Linked DNA regions of Homo sapiens: region 1 is linked to region 2. The links come from fine-mapping of genetic effects on gene expression. A gene starts in region 2. The other region holds a variant in brackets. All regions are shown on one strand. Distances are between the middles of the regions. Region 1 has its middle 23 kb from the start of CCDC71L. Region 2 holds the start of DUS4L-BCAP29 (DUS4L-BCAP29 readthrough).

Evidence for each region. PIP is the estimated chance that this variant, and not a neighbour inherited with it, causes the effect. A credible set is the group of variants that fine-mapping cannot tell apart.
Region 1: its variant is the best candidate, but not a certain one, in a credible set for the expression of DUS4L-BCAP29 in prefrontal cortex (GTEx, PIP 0.54).

What each region holds. Positions count from the first base shown.
Region 1 is chr7:106,633,292-106,642,068 of GRCh38, reverse strand. No RefSeq gene overlaps it. Among named protein-coding and RNA genes, the nearest start is that of CCDC71L, 23 kb to the left of the region's middle. The variant G/A (reference allele first, on the strand shown) is at 3,783.
Region 2 is chr7:107,559,023-107,567,799 of GRCh38, reverse strand. It overlaps DUS4L-BCAP29 (DUS4L-BCAP29 readthrough), which reads right to left and starts at 3,829. Exons shown (of 13, transcript NR_163941.2): 1 at 3,591-3,829; 2 at 3,124-3,212; 3 at 614-750. COG5 (component of oligomeric golgi complex 5) reads left to right here and starts at 3,880. Exons shown (of 22, transcript NM_006348.5): 1 at 3,880-3,997. The coding sequence starts at 3,904. DUS4L (dihydrouridine synthase 4 like) reads right to left here and starts at 3,829. Exons shown (of 8, transcript NM_181581.3): 1 at 3,591-3,829; 2 at 3,124-3,212; 3 at 614-750. The coding sequence starts at 729. RefSeq lists enhancers at 2,103-3,302, 3,833-3,952 and silencers at 3,653-3,752, 3,791-4,001.

The DNA of each region.
Region 1 (8,777 bases), 930 kb after region 2:
AGAAAACCCCAAAAGATTCTGTCATTAGTATATAATAATTACATCTCAGTCTCAGTATTGAGGTGACAGGCATGAGCCACCATGTCTGGCTGAGCTTTAATACATGCGCAGAGCCATATAACCACCACCCCATCAAAATATAGAGCAGTTCAATGGACCCCCCAAATTCCCTCATGCTGTCCCATTGTAGTCAACTCCTCCTCCACCCTAACCCTGACAACCCCTGATCTCCATCTCCATAGCTTTGCACTTCCACAATATCATATAAATAGAACTTTATTTTATTTAATTTTTTAGACTGTTTTCTTTCATTCCGCGTAATGCCTTTGAGATACATTCATATTATTCATATATCAATAGTTCCTTTTTTTTCCTGAGCGAACTTTCATTGTATGGATATTCCAGAGTTTGTTTAACCATTCACTTGTTGAATGACATTTGTGTTATTTCCAGTTTTGGTCAATTATGAATAGAACTGCTATAAGCATCTCTGTATGGGTTTTTGTGTGAATATGTTTTCACCTCTCTAGAGTAAATACCCTGGAGTGAGGTCATATGATAAACATATGTTTGACTTTATTAGAAACTGCCAAACTGTTTTCCAAGGTAGGTGTACCATCCCACCAGCAGTGCATCCCACCAGCAGTGCATGACAGTTGCAGTTGCCCAACATCCTTGCCAGTATTTGGTATTGTCTTCCAAAATATATATATATATATTAGCCATTCTTTTACATATGTAAAGGCACCTTATTTCCCTAAATGTTAATACTGCAGAGCTTCTTTTCATGTACTTGTATATATAATATTCTGGATAAAAGATCTTTGCTGGATATGTGATTTGCAAATATTTTCTCCCAGTCTGTAGCTTGTCTTTTTGTTCTCATACAGGTGTCCTTCATAAAAGTTTTAATTTGACAAAATCCAATTTATCAATCTTTCTCTTTTAAATAAATACAATTCATAATGCTTATAACTTCAGACATAAAATTTGTGCTCTTTGTCATGTGCATTTTTGTTATATATTAATGACAGAATCTTTTGGGGTTTTCTGCTTATGGTTGCACAAGTTGTGCACTGCACATCTCTAGCAGGCATGATTTATGTGGAATACTATGTAAATGGCAACCCCTAGAGCTGTCAAATGTACAGTTTGTGCAGCATATATTATCTCCCTGGTATCTTCTTTACTGGAAGGATTGCTGTCATTGTTGTGATTCGGTTTTACTCCCTGTGCTATTCATTTGTTATTAGGTGGAGTCTATATTGAAGCTATATTTAAGAAGCTCCTATATATGAACCGTTTAAAGCATAACCTGTTGCCAGTGACTCTTCAGCTTGCTAATGGCTTATCTTTGAGGTTCCAGAAACATCATGCTTTCAGGCTGGTTTCCTTAGCTGACTCTTTCCATCAATTCCCATTTGTGGAAATTGGAAACTCCCTGCACTCAGCCAGTTTTAGCTGTCTAGACAACCAGGTTTTGAAACTGACATCTAAACAAATGACTAACAGTGAAGATTTTTGGCATCACCCATTATTTATGCAACGCTGGATTTTACCCTGTAGAACCAAAAAAATCAACAGAGCATAAGGACAGACATGCTATTTGCAGGTAATCTTTTAGCTGTGTGTAATGTTACCTGAAAGGGGTCTGAATCCAGATCCCAAGAGAGGGTTCTTGGGTCTTGTACAAGAAAGAATTTGAAGCTAATCCATAAAGTGAAAGGAAGTTTACTAAGAAAGTGAAGAAATAAAAGAATGTCTTATTCACAGGCAGACCAGAGGCATGGGCTGCTCGGCTGCTTATAATTATTATTAGTTCTTGATTATATGCTAAATAAGGGGTGGATTATTCATGAGTTTTCTGGCAAAGGGGTGGGCAATTCCCAGAACTGAGGGTTCCTCCCCTTTTTAGACCATATAGGGTAACTTTCTGACATTGACATGGCATTTGTAAACTGTCAATGGCACTGGTGGGAGTGTCTTTTAGCATGCTAATGCATTATATAATTATCGTATAATGAGCAGTGAAGACCAGAGGTAACTTTTGTCACCATCTTGGTTTTGCTGGGATTTGGCCAGCTTCTTTACTTTATCAGCAAGGTCTTTGTGACCTGTATCTTGTGCCAACCTCCTATCTTATCCTGTGACTAAGAATGCCTTAACTACCTGGGAATGTAGCCCATTAGGTCTCAGCCTTATTTTACCCAGTCACTATTCAAGATGGAGTCACTCTAGTTTGAATGCCTCTGACAGTAATGAAGAAGTAAACTCCGAGACAGCACATGACTTCCCTCTGATGACGTAAGGTACCCTTCAGTGTCTGAGAGTTTTTTACTCTAAATATCTGACTAGCTGCGTTTTCTTCAACCTAGTTAAAGATAGAATCACAAGCTGTTGACTAGTCAACCGTTAGTGTCAGAGTTGAACTAGAAAAGCTTCAACAGATCAGAATTGTTCTTGGTGTCCTGATATGTTATCATCTCTGTCGATTAATATAGGCTCTAACTTGCTGTGCTATGGGAAGAAGAAACATGTATCCTATTTGTGAGTAGTTTTTATTCAAAATCAAGCTGATCATGTTTTTATGTAGGGAAGTCATAGAATCTGTATCTTGGGAATGAATATAACTTAAATGGGGAAGTTGTTAAGAAGGGTACCTTGGAAGGTGTGGACTTTGAAAGTTGAAAGTTTGGAAGGGGTGAGTGTGTTACACTACAAGTAGGTAAAAAGATTGTTCAAAGTTGGATCCCTGCTTAGAAAGCCCAAATAAATGGTTTGATGGGTGAGGGAAGAGAATGATATATTTGAGGGCTATTGATCCCATTCTAAGAAGTGACAATATAGAAAGAGGAAGAACCAACATGTGGTTTTTTTGTTTTGGTTTGTAAACCTCTAAAGAGATTACAAGGAAAGTGATCTTTCTGGATGTCTTTCACCTATCTGGCTTCTTTATATCAGGCGATAGGATAATTTCAGAAAGTGTTTCATTTCTCACCATTAACTATAACTTTTATTGGTGTGTCTTACATGCGCTTTATCAAGTTGAGGAAGATCCCCCTATTCTTAGTTTGCTGAGAGTTTTGTTTTTGTTCTCTTTTTAAATCATGCAAATGTATTGGATTTTGCCAAATGCTTTTCTGCATCTGTGGATATGACCATATGATTTTCCTTCTTTATCCTCTTGTGATAGATTACATTAACTTGTTCTGAAATGTTAAAGTAGCCTTGCTGTGATGTTAATACTGAGTGTCAACTTAATTGGATTGAAGGATGCAAAGTATTGATCCTAGGTGTGTCTGTGAGGATGTTGCCAAAGGAGATGAACATTTGAGTCAGTGGGCTGGGAAAGGCAAACCCACCCTTAATCTGGGTGGGTACCATCTAATCAGCTGCCAGCATGACTAGAATATAAAGCAGTCAGAAAAATTTGAAAAGACTAGACTGGCCCAGCCTCCCAGCCTATGTCTTTCTCCCATGCTGGATGCTTCCTGCTCTTGAACTTTGGACTCCAAGTTCTTCAGTTATGGGACTCAGGTTGACTTTCCTTGCTCCTCAGCTTGCAGATGGCCTATTGTAGGACCTTGTGATCATGTGAGTTAATACTTAATAAACTCCGCTTTATATATATCCCATTAGTTCTCTACCTCTAGAGAATCCTGACTAATACACTTGCATACCTGGAAAAAGTCTCACTTGATCATGTTGTATAATTCTTTTTATACATAGTTAGATTTAATTTACTAATATTTTATTGAGAAATTTTACATCTATGCTTAAGC[G/A]AGATATTGGTCTGTAGTTTCTCTTGCTTATAATGTCTTTATTTGCTTTTGTTATTAGGGTAATGTTGGCTTTACAAAATGAGTTGGAAGTGTTCCCTCTGCTTTTGTTTTCAGGAAGAGATTGTAGAGAACTAGTATCATTTTTACTTAAATGTTTGATAAATTCAACCAGTGAAACCATCTGGGCCTGGTGCTTTTTTTAAGATTATTAATTCTTGATTAAATTTATTTGATAAGATAGGACTATCCAACTTATCTGCTTCTCTTTGTGTGAATTTTAGTAGTTTATGTGTTTTAAAGATTTGGTCCATTTCATTTAAGTTAGCATAGAATTAGCCAACATTACCCTAATAACAAAACCAAATAAAGACATTATAAGCAAGAGAAACTACAGACCAATATCTCTCTTAAATTTGTGGGCATAGAACTGTTCATAGCATTCTTTTATTATTATCCTTTTAATGTTGATGGGATTAGTAGTGGTTATTTTTATTTCATTTGTGATACTAGCAATTTATGCCTTTTTTTCTTGGTTAGCCTGGCTAGAAGTTTATCAGTTTGATTGATGTTTTCAAAGAACCATCTTTTGGTTTTATGGATTTTCTCTATCAATTTTCTCCTTTTGATGTCATAGATGACTTCCAAGTTCTTAACATGTTGGAGCTCAAACCAATGTCCCTGTTACATTTTGTTTCTTTATTACTCACTTTTAAGATTTACATATGGTAAACTTCACTCTTTTGGTGTAAAGTTTTGTGAGTTTTGACAAATGCATAGAATCTTGTAGCCATCATCACTAACAAGACATAGGCCGTTCTGCTACCCCCACACCACAAAATTCCCTTGTGCTACTTCTTTGTAGTTAATTTCTCTCCCTACCTGCAACCCTGACAACTACTAGTCTGTCTTTGAACTTTGGTTCTTAAGTCATTTGTGGGATTGAGAAGCCTCTGGGACTGTTATGCAATGTATATTTTTAGGGCATGAATAGATCAAAAAAGTCTTTTCCTTTGTATGGATCCCAAATGATGTAACACATTATGGCTCTCATCTTTGTGCTTTTTGTTCCTTAAAAAAAGTAAACAATTAGAAAACAAACTAAGAATAAATTTGGCAAAAGTAAATAAAAGTAGATGAAATGGTTAAAAAAAAGTTAAGTTGTAAGGCAAACTGCATATCCCTTTCTTTGAAATATTCAAGCAGACAGAAGTGGACAGGTGCCCTGCATAAAGGAAGTAACTAGGATGATTGCTGTCTCAAGGGCATCTTAGGCTCACAGAGCTGGATGAACTTTGGAAATGACCTAATGATCTATGTAGTAGTCAGCAAACTATAGCCCACCAGCCACAACTGGTAGACCACCTGTTTTTATATGGCCATGGAATAAATATGGTTTTTATATTTATAAAAGATTGGGGAAAATATAAATCAGGGTATTTCATGACACATGAAAGTTATTATGAGATTCAAATTTCACTGTCCACAAATAAAATTTACTGGAACCCAGTCATGCTCATTTGTTTCCCTATTGTCTATGTCCTTTCACACTGTAATGGCAAAGTTGAGTAGCTGTGGCAGAGACTGTATATGGTGATCCTCACTTTGCACTACTGCTTGGAATGCTGTAAATTGCAGTGAAAGTTAAAATTCAACTGCATTTCTAGCATCATACAGTGACATTCCTCCCTCCCTCCTTCCCTTTTCTTTCTTTTTTTTCCTTCCTTCCTTCCTTTCTTTTCTTTTTCTTTTCTTTCTTTTCTTTTCTTTCTTTCTCTTTTCTTTCTTTCTTCCTTTCTTTCTTTCTCTCTCTCTCTCTCTCTCTCTCCCCCTCCCTCCCTCCCTCTCTCTCTCTTTCTTTCTTTCTTTCTTTCTTTCTTTCTTTCTTTCTTTCTTTCGTTTTTTGTTTGACAGAGTCTTGCTCTGTCACCCAGGCTGGAGTGCAGTGGCATGATCTCAGCTCACTGCAACCTTCACCTTCTGGGTTCAAGCAATTCTCTTGCCTCAGCCCCCCAAGTAGCTGGGCTTACAGGTTCATGCCACCACACCCAGCTAATTTTTGTACTTTTAGTAGAGATGGGGTTTCACCATGTTGGCCAGGCTGGTCTTGAAGAATTCCTGACCTCAGGTGATCCGCCCGACTCAGCTTCCCAAAGCGTTGCGATTACAGGCATGAGCCACCGCGACTGGCCTCTTTTCTTTCTTTGTTTTTGTTTCTACCCCCTGCCCCCTCCCCGCCTCCCTCTCTCCCTTCCTTCCTTCCTCTTTTCCCTCTCTTAAATTTATTTCTTATTATTAACAGTAAATACCCATCAAGTGATAACAAGAAAGAAAAAGTAGACTTTGAATATCAAGCTTTTAAGATACAGTGGAGTGTGTATTACTTTGCTATATAATAGAATTACTTGGCAAGACATTTTGCTTACTATGCAATGACAATATAGTTATGCTAAAAGAATACAATAGATGTCAACATAACCAGACTGAACAATCATTGTGACATTCTCATCTCACAGGAAAGCAATGATTAGAAAAATTTAAACTTGAATTTCTCATCAAAGCAGAATTTCTTCACAAAAACAAAAAATGAGAATGAGCTTGCAACCAAAGAAGTTTCTGAGTGGCTTGTTAGCCAAGCAAGGAAAGCGGTTTACCCATGGTGAGTTAACTAAATTGAGATCAATTACAACAGCCAAAGAAATGTGTCCAGAGAAAATAAACTTGTTTAAGACCTTTAGCCTTCCAGTAAGAACAATTGCTCAGAGAGTTGAGGACATTGGAAGCAACATCAATAGTCAATTTAAAAAAAAAAGACAAATAATTTAGGGTGGTTTTTCTTGGTTCCCGATGAGCCCACAATGTTACTGATACTGCTCAGTTGTTACTGATTCAAGGAATCAATGCCAATTTGGAAGTGACTGAAGAATTAGCTTCTATAAATAGTCTGCATGGAGCAACTAGAGGTGAGAATATTTTCAAAGAATTTGAGAAAACACCAATTTAGTACAACCTGTGGTAGAATCTGCTAAGAAATACCAAATCTGATGACAGTAAAAATATGTGTGAAATTGTAAGAGATTTTCAAAGAATTTGAGAAAATACTAATCCAGTACAATCTGAGACGGAATCTACTACGATATGTCACACTTAATGGTAGTAAAAATATGTATGAAGCTGCAAAATGCTTAGTTGGATAAATTTACAAAGGTTGGGAAAATGTAAGGCATTTAAAATCTACAGTTATTTATTGTGTTACTTATTAGTGGGTTCTTTGCTGAAAATGTTTTTATCTGGTATGTGTCATTGATCCAAGTTTCAGTGGTAGACTCATTCACTCTCATGGACATAACCATAATCAGTTCCATGAATTTTTGTTAGAAAGAGAAGCTGAATATCCTGACTTGCTGTACCACACAGCAATTCAGTGGTTCAGCAGTGGTAACGTTTTATTGTAATTTTTTGGAGCTCAGGGCTGAAGTTGAAATTGTTTAAAATGAGAACGGTCCTCAGCCACTACTAAGCAATACTGAATGGCTTTAGAAATTAGTTTTTGCTGTAGACTTCATAGTATTTCTTAATGAATTTCACCTAAAATTACAAGGCCAAGCAGTGCTCATATAAGAAATTTATACTGCAGTAAAGTCATTTCAACAACTAACATTACTTGAATGTCAACCTGCCCTATACACATCCAGTGTTACTAAAAGATAAAACAAGAATTGAGATCTCCATGCAATTTTCCTTGCAAATTTGCAGTGGTTATATTTTCTGAGTTCTAACTGCAGTCTCAGTAACATCTTTTGGACTCAATGCAAGGGCAAAACAAATTTCCATATTTCAAAATCCATTTAACCGAACATTTGAAGGGCTTCCATTGAGCCTTCAACTGGAAGCTATTAATTTGCAATGTAATCATATGCTAAAAATGTCAAGGGAAACATTTAATAGAACCCTACAAATGCCTTTCAAGTGATCAATATGCTCAATTAAAATCATATGCTCACGAATCAATATTAGTATTTGGCAGTTCTTATCGCGTAAAAAGATATTTTCAAAGATGAAATACTCATTCACTTGTGGAATTGCAATACTCAATGAGATACAATCTCAGCATAGATCAGCATTAACAAATGAACATTAGCAATCAACATTGATAATGGGCCAATCACATTTGAATCCCAATGCAGTGAAATGTTATTACCCTCAAAAGAATTCCAGTCATTATTAGACCTGTACTACAAAAAAATTATACACAATTATTTTTATATTTTAAATTTTGTCAGTAAAAAATGCATGAAAATGTGTTTTCTTTCTTGTTTTATAAGTAGTTATATAAGACTTTTGCCTCTTGGTCTGCAAAGCCTAAAATATCTACTATCTGTCTCTTTACAGACACTTTTCCAATCTCTGATCTAGAACACTTGATTTCCTCTATGCTAGAAGACAGTCTGAGGTTTCAACTGGAAAAGCCCCAGGGACAGGGTTGATAATTTTTAAAGATCTTTGTATATTACAAATGGAACAAAGAAAGCTGTTACGGGTTGTCAGCTGATGTCAGTCAAACTGTCATGAAAAAACTGGACTATGAACAAAAGTGGGTGCCTCTATTCCAACACAACTGTATTAGTTTTCTAGGGCTGCCATAACAAAGTACCACACACTGGGGGCTTAAGAGAAACAAAAATGTGTTCTCCCACAGTGCCAGAAGCTAGAAGTCCAAAATCAAGGTGTCAGTAGGACCATACTTCCTCTGAGGCGTCTAGAAAATAACCCTTCCTTGCCTTTTTCTAGCTTCTGTTAGTTGCTGGCAATCCCTCAGTATTCCTGGGCTTGTAGCTGCATCACTTCAATCTACGTCCACTGTCTCACAGCCTTCTTTCCTGTGTGTCTGTCTGTGTGTACATCTCCCCTTCTGATAAGGACATCAGTCACACTGGATTTAGGGTCTACCTAAATCCATTATGACCTTATCTTTATCTAATATACCCGCAAAAAACT
Region 2 (8,777 bases):
AGTGGAATGGGGAGTCACAGTTTAATGTGATAGAATTTCCATCTTCTAAGATGAAAAGAGTTTTAGAGATCAGATGCACAACAATGTGAATGTAATTAACACTGCTGAACTGTATACTTAAAAATGATCGAGAGGTAAATTTTATGTTACGTATATTTTATAACAAACTTCTAAAAAAACTCAATAGTAAAAGAGCAAACAATCCAATTAGAAGATGAGCAAAAGATACGAAGAAATATTTCTTCGAAAACTGAACACACAACTACCTTAGGACCCATAATTGCACTCCTATTTGTCCCAAGACTTAAGTTCACATAAAAATCTATACATCAATACTTATATCTATTTAATATCCATTATATACTTATAGGTAGGAGTTACAACCACCACCATTTTTATAGATATAAAAAGTGCAGCTCAGAGAAGTTAATTGTTTACTCAGGATCACATATATACTAGGCAAGTAGTAGCATCATGACTCAATTCTAAGTCATGATTCCAAAGCTAAGAGTTTGAAGTTCCCATATGGTGGGTGGTCTTACAGTACTTTTAAAAAGTCAGAGCATAAAAGGGAAATTTCATCTTAGTTCATTAATCATTTTGCAACACTTACTTTGAATATCGAACCATTGGGGCACAGACTTTTACCAGCTGTCCAGAATGAAACATTTCTATGGGATCTTTTTTTCTTTCCTGACATATTGTCGTTTGCATGCAGTCACTCTTCATTAATACAGATATGTTTCAAATCTGAAAAAGACAATAAGCTTGTATAGAGAAAATATGTTTTCACTATATTAATTCCATTCTAACAATTTCAACTGCCAACAACATATATTTTTTATCAGGCTTGTGGGCTCAGAAATTTTTTTATTAATAGCTTATTTTCACAGTATCCAATATGATACTATAGAATGCTGCCTCTATTTGTAAGATAAATAGATGTGGAAAACTACCCAAGATAGTTGTGGAAACACAAGATGCAGAAAACGAGATTTTTTTTTTTTCCCTAGTTTACCATGTTGTAAGTTTTCATGTTATTTAAAAATTTTTTACATGTTACTTTGTTGGGATTGGTAAGCCAAGAAATTTGGTTTGAATTATTTTATATATGATACTCGACTGGCATTTGGAAATATCTTGTTTTATTCAGGAAAGTTAAATGGCATTAATAGAGCAACTCTTAAGTAGTCAGTGTTTCAAAAGATATGCTGGTGCTTTTATTGTAATTCTTGAATCCTGTTCTGTCTGTGAATCAGAAGATAAACAAACGTTAATTATTTTTAAAAATTTTAATGTGATATTATCTAGTGAAAATTTCAATTATAATTCTACAATTGCATTGTAAATCACTTTTATACCCCAAGAGGTACAGGTACGAGTGATGAAATTATGGAGTTTGTAAATGTTTTACATTTGCTATACTTAAAATCCTACTATTTCACAGTGTTGGCTACTTTTCATATTCCAGTCCTTGGCCTCAGTAACTTAGAAACAGGTATGTATGAAGGAAAAATGAAGCAGAAAATAACAACAACAAAAAAAAGAATCAGATATGGGCCAACTTTAGAATGGTCTAATTGCTCAAACTTTAGAGTCTTTAACCTTTAGGCAAGGAGTTGAAATTAAAAATAGCCAAGGTACTTAAGGATGTCAGGATCTTGCAAGAAACCGCTGGAAGCACCAATATTTAAGTAACAGAGGAAAAGGGGAGAGCAAAAGAGACTGAAGATGAACTTTGGAGCTGGGAGGAATAAACCTAAAGAGTGATACTCAGAAAACGAGAGAGACCATTATGAAGGAAGGAGGGGATAGGTATCTTAAACATCAAAGTAAGGCAAAAATAAAGCGCAATGGCAACAAGGTCATTAGTGATTTTAGCAAGAATTACTTCATTTTTATCCACTCCTGCAGTCATAGTAAATGGCATACAGAAGGCCTCAATATTTATTTGCTGAAAGAATAAATCAGTAGGTTTCAGGGGACTGGGCTCACACCTGTAAACTCAGCATTTTGGGAGGCCAAGGTGGGAGGCTTGCTTAAGGCCAGGAGTTTGAGACCAGCTTGGGCAATATAGTGAGACCCCCATCTCTAAAAAAATTATAAAAATCAGCTGGGCGTGGTAGCAAGCGACTGTGATCCCAACTACTCCAGAAGCTTGGGCAGGAGGATCCCTTGAGCCCAGGAGGTTGAGGCTGCAGTGAGCCACGATCCTGCCACTGCACTCCAGCCTGGGTAACAGAGCTAGACCCCAACTCAACAAAACAAAACAATCAGTAGCTTTCTACCTTAGTTGTACACTACAATGACCCGAGGAGCTTTTAAGAATTAGCATGCCCAAGCCATACCCTAGACCAATTAAATCCAAACGTCTGGGCTCAGGATGCAGGCATCAGTGTTTTTATTAAAGCTCTTCAGGTGATTTCAATGTGCAGCTAAGCTTGGAATTACTGGAATAAGTAAATCCAAAGATTCCAAAGCACCTGGTACAATTGTTTGTTTAAATGGGTTCCTACCTTACCTATTAACTCCTTTTAGAATATGGATTGAGTCTTATGTTTGTAAACTCATGAGAGCATGCAGAGTAGAGGGGTCAAAACTTTCGCTGTATGAATGAATATTACTCACTCTTCTAAAATCTTCCACTGGGGGGAATAAAGCCAAGGAAGGAAAAACAATTCCTAATTCACAAGTAATGAATGAATCACCCCTATTCCCATCATGACTAAGATCTTACATACTAGGGAAAATCCTCTGAGACAAAGAGAGCATAATGCAGTGTAGCATAAGACTTGCTTACCTGAGGTGTTATGAGTATGAAATGCATTGAGTTATAAAATACTTAGAACAGCGATAAGCACAGGATAAGTAATAGCACCTTTTTGAAACAGAATGTAGAAAACCACGTAGCTCTGGAACTGGATAAAATTGGTTTCCTGGATACATACCTACTGTACAAAATGAAAAAGTCATCTTCCAGCTTCTTTTTGCGAAGAAGCTTAAGACTGTCTTGCATACTTGTGGTTGCCTGACCCTGTTAATTTATCAGTATTTATCTTAGAAGAAAGAAATCTAGGTCAAAAACGCGAACGTATTAGTAAAGAAGATACAATGGGAACCAACCTGATGCTCTTACAGCGTCAATACTGTTAGTTGAGATGTGGACCATCTATCAGTTTGTAATTAAGAAAAAGTCTGGCACGTGACTGAAACTGAGGAAGAAGTAGAAAAGGCAAAAGGTCAAAGGTCTCATGGGAAGGAAGGAGGGTAGAGACAGTGAGTTTTATTGGTCCTTTTATGGTTCAGACTTCCTTCTTCATCGACTCTCCCTAATTCTCTTCACTGTTCATCCCCAGCAACTTTTCTTCCCAAGCATTTCCTGCGGGCTTTTATTACCCCAGGAGTGCCAATCAAGGCGTGGAACAGATAAAGCTGTGTAGCAACTAACGCGTGACTCTTGTGAGTGTGGAGGGCAAACGAAGCTCCCTGAAACCTCCGCTCTGCTCTCCTGCCTTACGCCGCGCGGCCCCTGTTCTGAGGTTTAATACTTGCTTCACAGATAAGCGCTGCGGCCACGTTCCGGTGCCCACCTTCTCCTTGGCTAGGGCACGACGCCAGCCCAGGGGGCGCGGCCCTGAGCTGCTGCGAGAGACAGCTGAAAGCGCCGGCCCGACGGCCTTGGCTCCCTCGGTGCGCTGGGCGCAGAGCACTCGGACCCTGGGCGCCCACTGCTCGAGTACCTGCGCGGCTCCTAGCCAGGCTTAGCCCAGGCGCGGGCTGAGAGTCAGTTCGCCAGGTGGGCCTGGAGCCATGGGCTGGGTGGGCGGGCGGCGCCGGGATTCTGCGTCACCACCTGGGCGGAGCCGTTCTGCTGCTGACGACATCAACCCGGCACCTGCCAACATGGAAGGTGGCGGCGGCAGCGTCGCTGTAGCTGGCCTCGGAGCTCGAGGCTCTGGAGCGGCTGCAGCTACAGTCCGGGAACTTCTGCAGGACGGTAAGGAGACGGGGTCTGACCAGGTCGTGGGGTTGGGGGTCTGCGCTGCTCCGCACCTGGACAGCGAGGTGGACCCAACCCGTTGCTTTGCAGAAAGTTTTCCAGTCTGGACGTGACCACTCCCCTCCGCCCGGCCCCCTGGCTTGGGTACTGTTCTAGCCAACCTATTTACTCTGGGACTGGCTCCCTCTTTTCTGGAGTCTTGGGGACACTTGGTTTCTGTGTGTTCCTCATTTCAACTCGACCCCCCCCCCCCCCATGCCTCCAGCTTCCCTGAAGTTTCGGGAGCCCAAACCCTGTGGACCGCGTTGGCAGCCACCGGCTGCTGCCGCAGTTCTTGACGAAGGGGTGTAGCGTTCGAGCTCTTCAAAAGTGTAAGCTCTAGAACAGACGGCAGACGCATAATGAAATAGGGCCTTGTTTTAAAGTAGAGCTGGAAACGCTTACTCCTTTAACAAATGGACTGTACAGGTGACCCCTCTTACAGGCTGGTTTTTTTTTTCCTCCTTTATGAGGCAGTTATCTACAGTGACACGTGGGGGAGGGTTTGAGACATTTGTTCAGGTTGGGATTAACCATTTGTACAGAATCTAGCAGTCAGATTTTATTGCTAGTCAGTTTGGAGAGAAGTTGCCCAAAATAAGAAAAGTTAGATATAATATACTTGAAAAGCATATTCAGTTGTGTCAATCCAGTTACCATGTCCCGAATCTCTTATCCTTCAGAATAAAGTTCACATTTATAAGCATAAAAATAAAGCCCTTCTCACCTGTTCTTAATTTTTTCTCTAGTGGCCATCGCATTCTACCTTGTACTAAAATCATTTGTATACTTGTTTTAATCTCTTCTGTATTGCAAACTTTTTTTAATATCCCACAGTGTGAATAGCAGTATCTTGCATACAGTAGGTGCAGAATGTTTTTTAAATTCATCATCGCAGTTAGAAGCACATGCACACATTTGAAGACCGAAGTGGGTAATAAATGAAATAAAGTTCCAAATTATTGTTTATTTTCTCTGACTGTTAAATATTTTATTGTCATCCTGAATTACGTGCCTTTTCATGATAATTTATGTACTTTTGTCAAAAGCAATGATGTTTTCTGAACTATTTCATGTTGGAAACTCTAGGACCGGGTCTCTGTCTAAAACTTGGCTAAACTGAATTTAAACTTTAGATACAAGGCAGAGACCCTGATATATTTGCAGTTGCTCCTGATACACGTGCAATTTTTGCCCTCAAGTAGTTCACCATCTAGTAGAGGAAATAATCTTGTAGACTATAAAGGTAGGTGCTGTAATATAGTGATGTAAGATAGCAGTAGGATTGCATATAAAGTAGAGCATTAATACAGAGGAGAATGATAACTGGGGGTTGGAAACTGGTTAGGAAATGTCAGAAAAGGCTTTCTAGGTGGAGACGTTTTAAACTGTAGACAGGACTTCCCCAGGTGAACAGTGGAACATTGGATATATGTTTCAGTAGGATGTATTTCAGGAATTGTAATCAGTTCTTGGACGGTAAATACTCTTCAGTTCTGCCTTCTGTATTTTCCTCCTTGGTTCTCTGCCATTCTCCACAGTGATTGTTTAAATCTTCTTTACCCTTTTCAAACCTTTCGCTTCAAGCTCAACAAATGACTTTAAGCTTCCCTGGGGAGAAAAAGAGGATCCATCAGATGTGAACTTTCTCCATTTCTTGCCCATCAAACCTATGAATTTAACCTCAACGTATAACCATCTGTTGCACCTTTTTTCCCTTGCCTTTTCAATTGCAACGGAAGTGGAGCCTCTGCTCCTTTCTTTCTTTCTTTCTTTTTTTTTTTTGAGACGGAGTCTCGCGCTGTTGCCCAGGCTGGAGTGCAGTGGCGCAGTCTCGGCTCACTGCAAGCTCTGCCTCCGGGGTTCACGCCATTCTCCTGGCTCAGCCTCCTGAGAAGCTGGGACTACAAGCGCCCATCACTATGCCTAGCTAATTTTTTGTATTTTTAGTAGAGACGGGGTTTCACCGTGTTAGCCAGGATGGTCTCGATCTCCTGACCTCGTGATCTGCCTGCCTTGGCCTCCCAGAGTGCTGGGATTACAGGCGTGAGCCACCACGCCCGGCCGAGTCTCTGCTCCGTTCTAAGGATAGTGCCTCCTACTTTGCTCTGGATTTTTTCTTCCTGTTTCCTGGGGACTCAGTCACCCTCAATCTATGCCATTGAAGTAACTTTGCAAGGTTTTCAATGACTTTCTTGCACATACGACAAATGGACACTTTTTTGGTCCTTTAACTTGTAATAACATTTGATTCCTTTCTTGAAATACTTTCCTCATGCGGTTTATGGGTGCCGTGCTTTTTAAAAATTCTTAATTCTCTAGGTGCTCTTTTCCAGGTTCCTGTAGATACTTGTCAGTTCAGTTTGTTCTGAATTAAGCGGTCTCTGTTGCCCCTCCACCCCCAACATTCCTGAGGAATTAAGCATTTCCAGCAGAAACTTTGATTCACTATATCGGGGATTTGGCCAATGACAGAGTATCGGATTGATAGGCTTGGTGAGCACAGATGCATAGTATGAAAATTGGTGAGGTGTTTCTGATATGCCCTCTATGGGAATGAGGAAACTATAAAAGAGAAGCATTATATAATTCATCTCTTTAAAGGCTGTCAGCCCTCAAATGCCACATCCCGTTGTGTTTGATCTTTGTAAGCTCTATGACAATACTAATACTTACTTTCTTTATCCCTTCTTTTGGCTTTTGCCATTCTTTTTTGTTTCTCTTTCTCCCTGAGCACTCTTTAGTCTCTTTGATTGCTTTCATTTTCTCTGTCCACCCCCCACTTTCCTATCTTCCTCATTTTCCTGCCTTTTTGTGCATTCTAAAACTTTTTTTTCCTAAATCATCTGGTCTTGTCTGTGGTTTCAGTATGCTCCTTACCTGTCTTCTGAATTATAAAACTATATTTTTAACTGCCTACTGGACATTTCTATCTTAATTTTTTTATGATATGCCATTCCATAACCTGTATGGACATTTCTATTTTGATAGTAAACAAGCAGTGCTAGTTCTATAATACACATGAAAACCTACATATGAACAAATAGTACAAGGTTTACATATGAAAAAATGAAATGAATTCACTTTTTCTGTTCTTCTCTCCTAATCTTTTCCTCTGGTAGTTTCTGTTATCTGTGTTTACTATGTTGTTAGGTAAATGTGTGCTTGTTCCCCTTGTAAATTATGAATTCCTTGGAGGCAGAAGTTTATGTTCATCTTGGTATATTCAGTGTCTAGTGGTCTAAGTTAGTGTAAAACTAAATTTCCTGTATCAGTTGCTTAATCCAGAAATTTGGGAATCCTTGTTTGTTCTACCTAATCACCCATTTTCAGCTTGTCACTAAGTCCTACATCCTGTGCAGTGTGAATATTTGTCAAATTTGTCACTTTGACATTCTTAGTGCCACTTATTCAGGTCTTAGTCGGGCCTTCATTATGTCTTAGGCTGTTAACATAGTACTTTACTGGCCTCTGTGGTTCTATTTCTTGGGTGTATTGGTTAATTGGCTTTGTGGGAAAATAGAAAAAGCCCTGATTTTTGTAGTGTTTGCTGATTACCATGGTGTAAATACTCTCACCATCGTAGATTTTAAGATATCTGTGTGAAAGGTCAACTGGCTCACAGAATTCCTGAAAATGTAACAGTCTGTGCTCAAGAGCCAATAAGAGGCAACTTCAGCACATTGCTGTGTGACTAATCCTTTTTCCATCATCCTCTATACAGCTGCCAGGATTATTGTTCTGTAACATAAAGCTGATAGTGCAATTTCTTGGGTTAAATGAGATATGGTTAAACATTTCAAATGTCTTACAAACCTCTTTTCAAACTGCGCTCCAACCTTTGGAACCACATCTGTCATTCTTTACCATTTCTGTCCAATATACATGTGCTATGATTTAGACACACTGAAATCAGTATTCCCCTTGTTTCTCAAAATATGCCATGGCATTTGCCACTGCTAAACCTTCCCTTTGCTTGGAATGGCTTTTTTCATTTGTCTGGCTGACAGGACTCTTAATTCTGAGAAGCACTTGGCAAATCAGAAGGAAATGTGGTTCTCAGACTTAAAAGCAGCCAAAGTAGCAGTTTCCTTCTTTCATTCCACTACATTTTAAGAATAATCAAGAGTATGAGCCTTTACTTTTTGTTGTTGGTTGTTACCAGAATGATACTAATGATACATCAGCTGATGTATAGATTAGTTAATTCATGGAACCTGCCATGTGTCTGGTATTGTTCAGACACTGGAGAAGAGTTAGCAAACAAAACAAAGACCTTCTTCCCCTCTTGGAGCATACATTATAGCAGATGTAGACAATTTAGGTTTTCTTAAAAGTACTCTATTTTGTTTGTTTCATAATCTCTCTCAAGGCAGCTTTACTTGTATCTACTGTATCATTAGGAGATTTGGTACATGGTTACCATGAGCTCCCTTCTGGGTATCTATTTTTAGCTTTCAATTCTCTTAATTTTTCTTTCATCCACATATTTGTGGATTTCTATATTGAGGGGTATCTTTTTAACATCTGGTATTACTTCTGTTTTCTGTCTATTAGGGGCCTATTTTAAACAGCTTTTCTTTCCATTAACATATTTCACCCATAAATCCTAAATTTCAGTAACACCTATAAATTTATATTTCCTATTGTTACTAAAATTCCAGATTCACTTTGCTATAACAGTATTTGTGTATTGATCTAGAGATATCTGAGGCCATAAATATTACATATGTGTATA